Regions from separate parts of the Homo sapiens genome. Here region 2 is linked to region 1. The links come from fine-mapping of genetic effects on gene expression. A gene starts in region 1. The other region holds a variant in brackets. All regions are shown on one strand. Distances are from middle to middle.

Evidence for each region.
Region 2: its variant is fine-mapped to the expression of CACNG6 in whole blood (TOPMed, PIP above 0.99).

Annotation. Positions count from the first base shown.
Region 1 is chr19:53,990,443-53,993,340 of GRCh38, reverse strand. CACNG6 (calcium voltage-gated channel auxiliary subunit gamma 6) reads right to left here and starts at 1,704. Exons shown (of 4, transcript NM_145814.2): 1 at 133-1,704. The coding sequence starts at 463.
Region 2 is chr19:54,019,286-54,022,183 of GRCh38, reverse strand. No RefSeq gene overlaps it. Among named protein-coding and RNA genes, the nearest start is that of CACNG6, 29 kb to the right of the region's middle. RefSeq lists an enhancer at 1,735-2,029. The variant G/C (reference allele first, on the strand shown) is at 1,488.

The sequences.
Region 1 (2,898 bases):
TTACTGCGAGGCAAGCTGTCTCCTCCGGGCTCAGGCTTTTGTCCCTGGGGCGGGTTTTCTCCTCGGACACGGGCCCCTCTCCCTCCCTGTCCGTGGGACGCAAGCCCTGCGCTCGGGGCGGCGGCTGCTCACCTCCGGGCAGCTCCGCGGGGCCGCAGGTGTCCCTGTCCACGGGCACGTCCGCCTGCCACAGCCGCTTGGTGCACGCCTTCCACAGCCCCAGGTGGGCCGCTTCGCACACGGCGCTGCCGTTGGCCTTGTAGGTGTTGAGCTCCACCCAGAACTCGGTGCCCACGGACAGCACCGCCAGCGTGGCGCCCACGGCGGCCAGCAGCAGCGCCAGCTTCACCTTCCCCTCGCGCTCGGGCGTCAGCCCCGACCTGCCCTGCCCGTGCGCCCGCCGCCGGCCCGCGGCCCCCCGCCGCCGGTTCTCCTCTTGCAGGAAGAAGTTGGACCACATCATCTTATGGCCGGTGGGGTCGGGAAGGGGGAGGAGGCAGAGCCGGCGAAGGGCCTCGAGGGGCGGGAGCGAGGAGCGGCCTGGGGTCTTGAAGGGGGTGAGGGACTCAGTTTCCCCTGGGTATGAAAGAGGGAGAGCCGAGTCCTGTCTGGAATCTCAAATGCGAAAGTCGAGATTGCTTCTGGGGTTCAGAAGAGAAAAATGATCCCCAGGGCTGGGGAAGCCTCTGGGGTTCAGAGGAGGGTCTAGGTTGCCCTCAAGAACTTGGCAAAGAAGACGGGGCCCAGAGGAAAAACAAGGCCCCCACCCTGAGGTTTAGAGATAGAATTCGGCTTCCCAGGAGGGAGTCCCCCCAAGAGCTCCAGAGGAATGAGAACTGGTGCCCGCTGAAGCTCCCTGCAGCTCCAAGGGGCTGCTTTGGGGTCCCCGCTGGGGGGTTAACAAAAGGGAAACTGGTTTTCCTGAGAGATCTGAGCACCCCACTAGGGCTAAGAGTTTGGGGTACCCAGGAAGGGACCTGAGGTCCTGTGTGTGTTTGGAGGAGATGTGGCCGGGGTTCCCTTGGGCTCAGAGTTTGAGAACAGAGGACTTGGGGACCCTCTGGGATTCGGAAAAGGAAGACCTGGGGTCCCGGGAAGCTCCCAAGGGGAGGTCGGAATTCAATCCGGGTCTCAAGAGAGGCAGTAGGACCCCGGCATCCACAGAAGGAGAAGAACAGAGCCCTGGCTGGGGCTCAGAAGAGGACTGGGCCTCGCTGGAATTCAGGAAAAGGGGATAGGGGTCTCCCCTGCCATTCAGAAAAGATCCGAGGTCTCTACTGAGCCTGGAAAAGGGGCCGGTGGCCGGAAGACAGAGTGGAGTCCAGAGGCGGGAGGCTACGGGGCCTCCCCGAGGGCTGGGGCAGATGGGACCGGGGGCCCTCCTGGGGCTCACACTATGGGGCTGTGGTCCGCACTGCGGCTCGGAAAACCAGGACTGAGTCCCCCCAGGGTTCAAAGGCCAACCGCGACCCGCAAGAGACGCTGCGCCCCTTCGGGATCAGTCCGTCTCCCTCCCCCGGGCTCCCAGGGCCTTCCCGGTCGGGTTCGCGCCAGGCTCAGCCCCAGGCCAGGGCCCCCCCTCGGGGCTCCCACCCCCGACTCCCGAGCAGGGGCCCCTCTCGCTCTCCTGCCTCGGCCCCGCGCCGACCCCAGCTCCGCGCTGCCTCCGAAGCGTCCGGCTGTGCCCGCCACCGCCACCGGCCTGGCCTCCGCCCGCGCCCGGCCTCGTCCCCACCCGCCCACCCCCCACCCTCCACCCTCCACCCTCGGGGCTATTTCGGGCTTGACCCGTAAATAACACCCGCACCTGTCGCCCGGCGCCTGTTGCCATAGGGATCCCGGGTGTTTTAAGGGGACGAGGAAGGGGGGAGGGAGGCCGCCCGGGGAGGAAGGGGCCGAGCCTGATGGGACTTTCATTTCACTAAGGGGCAAGAGCGGCGCCGAGAGTCCCAGCTCCGCAGTCTCCCGGGCAGCAGGAGACGGGCGGGGCAGCAAGTCTGACTGGGGTTACCAGGGAGGAGGGGCGGGAGGCAGGGCCCCGGGTCTCAGGGAGGAGGGCCTGAGGCCAGGAGTCTTGGGTCCCTAAGGGAGAAGAAGCCTCGGTACCCCACTTCTGAGTGGTAGAGGAAGAAGGCCTGGGTACCCAGAATCTTGGATCTGAGAGGAGAGGAACCTGGTCTCCTAGGTCCTGGGCTCCTGAGTCTGAGGGAGGAGGGGCTGGGGGCCTGAACTCCTGGGTCTGAGGGAGGAGGGGCTGGGGTCTGGACTCCTGGGTCTGAGGGAGGAGGGGCTGGGCCTGGGCTCCTGAGTCTGAGGGAGGAGGGACTGGGGCCTGGACTTCTGGGTCTGAGGGAGGAGGGACTGGGGCCTGAACTCCTGGGTCTGAAGGAGGAGGGGCTGGGGGCCTGGACTCCTGGGTCTGAGGGAGGAGGGGCTGGGGGCCTGGACTCCTGGGTCTGAGGGAGGAGGGGTTGGGGGCCTGGGCTCCTGGGTCTGAGGGAGGAGGGGCTGGGGGTCTGGACTCCTGGGTCTGAGGGAGGAGGGGCTGGGGCCTGGACTCCTGGGTCTGAGGGAGGAGGGGCTGGGGGCCTGGGCTCCTGAGTCTGAGGGAGGAGGGGCTGGGGGCCTGGACTTCTGGGTCTGAGGGAGGAGGGACTGGGGCCTGAACTCCTGGGTCTGAAGGAGGAGGGGCTGGGGGCCTGGACTCCTGGGTCTGAGGGAGGAGGGGCTGGGGGCCTGGGCTCCTGGGTCTGAGGGAGGAGGGGCTGGGGGCCTGGGCTCCTGGGTCTGAGGGAGGAGGGGCTGGGGGCCTGGGCTCCTGGGTCTGAGGGAGGAAGGCCTGGGCCTGGACTCCTGGGTCTGAGGGAGGAGGGGGCAGGGGGCCTGGACTCCTGGATC
Region 2 (2,898 bases), 29 kb before region 1:
CCAGTGATTTCACAAATATTTGTCGAGCACGTACTATGGACCAGGCATTTTGAAAAGACTGTTACTGTTGGCTGGGTGCGGCGGCTCATGCCTGCAATCCCAGCACTTTGGGAGACCGAGGCTGGCGGATCATGAGGTCAGGACTTCCAGACCAGCCTGACCAACATGGTGAAACCCCATCTCCACTAAAAATACAAAAATTAGCTGGGCGTGGTGGTGGACGCGTGTAGTCCCAGCTACTTGGGAGGCTGAGGCACGAGAATCACTTGAACCCGGGAGGCAGAGGTTGCAGTGAGTTGAGGTCACACCACTGCACTCCAGCCTGGGCGACAGAGCAAGACTCCATCTGAAAGAAAAAAACAACAAACTGTAGATTGTAACAAGAGACATGCTAGAAATCAAGAGGGATGCACTATAACACAATGAGTGTATGGGAGGTGGGTCTTTCCTTTGCAAAGTGGGTAAGGGAAGACTTGGATGAAAATATGTTGAAGCTGAGAATTAAAAACAGTGTAAGTATCCAGCCATGAGAAATGCAAAGAGAATGACACTTCAGGCAGAAGGCACAGCGCAGGCAAAGGCCCTGGGGCAGGAGCAAGCCTGGCCAGTACTAGTTCCAAGAATGGACACAGGCCAGCGTGGCTGAGGCAAAGTGAGCCGGCTAGAGCACAGCAGGAGAAGGGAGGTGCTAAGCCCGGATCATGCAGAACTTTGCAAGTTGTGATAAGAAGTTTGAATGTGGGGCCGGGTGCAGTGGCTCACGCCTGTTACCCCAGCACTTTGGGAGGCCAAGGCGGGGCAGATCACGAGGTCAGGAAATCAAGACCATCCTGGCTAACACGGTGAAACCCCGTCTCTACCAAAAATACAAAAAATTAGCCAGGTGTGGTGGTGGACGCCTGTAGTCCCAGCTACTTGGGAGGCTGAGGCAGGAGAATGGCGTGAACCCGGGAGGCGGAGCTTGCAGTGAGCTGAGATCGCACCACTGCACTCCAGCTTGGGCGACAGAGCGAGACTCCGTCTCAAAAAAAAAAAAAGAAGTTTGAATGTAGCTGGGCCCAGTGGCTCATGCCTGTCATCCCAGCACTTTGGGAGGCCGAGGCAGGAGACCAGCCTGACCAACATAGAGAAACCTCATCTCTACTAAAAATACAAAGTTAGCCGGGCGTGGTGGCGCATGCCTGTAATCCCAGTTACTTGGGAGGCTGAGGCAGCAGAATCGCTTGAACCTGAGAGGGGGGGTGCAGTGAGCCAAGCTCGTGCCATTGCATTCCAGGCTGGGCAACAAGAGCGAAAATCTGTCTCAAAAAATAAAAGAAGTTTGAGTGTGTGTGTGTGCGTGTGGTTTTTTTTGTTTGTTTTGTTTTGTTTTGTTTGAGACTGAGTCTCACTCTATTGCCCAGGCTAGAGTGCGGTAGCATAATCTCAGCTCACTGCAACCCCCGCCTCCTGGGTTCAAGCGATTCTCCAGCCTCAGCCTCCAGATA[G/C]CTGTGATTACAGCCATGCACCACCAGGCCCAGCTAATTTTTGTATTTTTAATAGAGACGGGGTTTCACCATGTTGGCCAGGCTGGTCTCGAACTGCTGACCCCAAGTGATCCACCCGCCTCGGCCTCCCAAAGTGCTGGGATAATAGGGGTGAGCCACCGCGCCTGGCCTAGAAGTTTGAATTTTTGTCCAAACGGAAAAGGAAGTGGAAGGTGGAAAATGCCTTCGTAACACTGATAAGGCAGGCAAGCAAATGATTAAGCCCTCCCTATCTTGTGGCTTTGCAAGCCTCGCATTTCAGCACTCTTGTTTGTCCTTGCACGGGAAATGAGTAGGCAGTGAATAATTTTTAGGTTGATATTGTCAGATTCCGTGCAGTTCCCCCGCTCTGTCCACAGACCTCACAAGGATTGTGTCACATCAGTTAAGGGCAGCAGGAGGGGCGGGGCTGGGAACAGGGTGGGTCTTCAGCCTTGCTGGCACCCTCTGGTCTGACTCAGCCCTTCTCACCTGATCACAATAGCGTCCTAAACCATCTCCCTGCTTCTACCTTCATTTCCCGCCTTGACCATCTGCTCTCAACGTAGCAGACAGAGGGATTCTTTTAAAATAGAATTGCTAGACTTGGGACATTAAAATACAGGATGCCCAGTTAAATTTAAAGTTTTAGATAAACAAAAAAATTTTGAATGTAAGTATATCTCATGCAGTTTGGGGGCTGTACTTAGACTTAAACATTTTATTTGTTGTTTATCTGAGTTTTGAAATCAACTGGGCATCCTACATTGAATCTGGCAACCCTATTTCAGTTTAATTTTTATTTTATGTATTTTTTTTGAGGCAGGGTCTGTTGCCCAGGCTGGAATGCAGGGACACGATCATGGCTCACTGCAGCCTCCAGGCTCAAGTCATCCCCCCACCTCAGCCTCCTGAGTAGCTGGGACTACAGGTGTGCACCACGATGCCTGGCTAAACTACATGACACATATATCCTCTCACCGCAGTTAAAATGGCTTTTATAGGCCTAATCCAGCACTTTGGGAGGCCGAGGCGGGCGGGTCACCTGAGGTCAGGAGTTCAAGACCAGCCTGGCCAACATGGCAAAACCCCGTCTTTACTAAAAATACAAAAATTAGCTGGGCGTGGTGGTGGGTGCCTGTAATCACAGCTACTCAGGAGGCTGAGGCAGGAGAATCGCTTGAACCAGGGGGAAAGGGGTTGCAGTGAGCCAAGATCACGCCACTGCACTCCAACCTGGGCGACAGAGAGAGACCCTGTCTCAAAAGAAAAAAAAAAAGTGATTGTGGCAAAGAAGGGCTTTTCTCAAAGACATTGCTTCATCTGTAACCACAAGCCTCATTTCTTTACTGTACTCCACCCTTTGGTGGAGTAACTTATCAACATGGGCTCA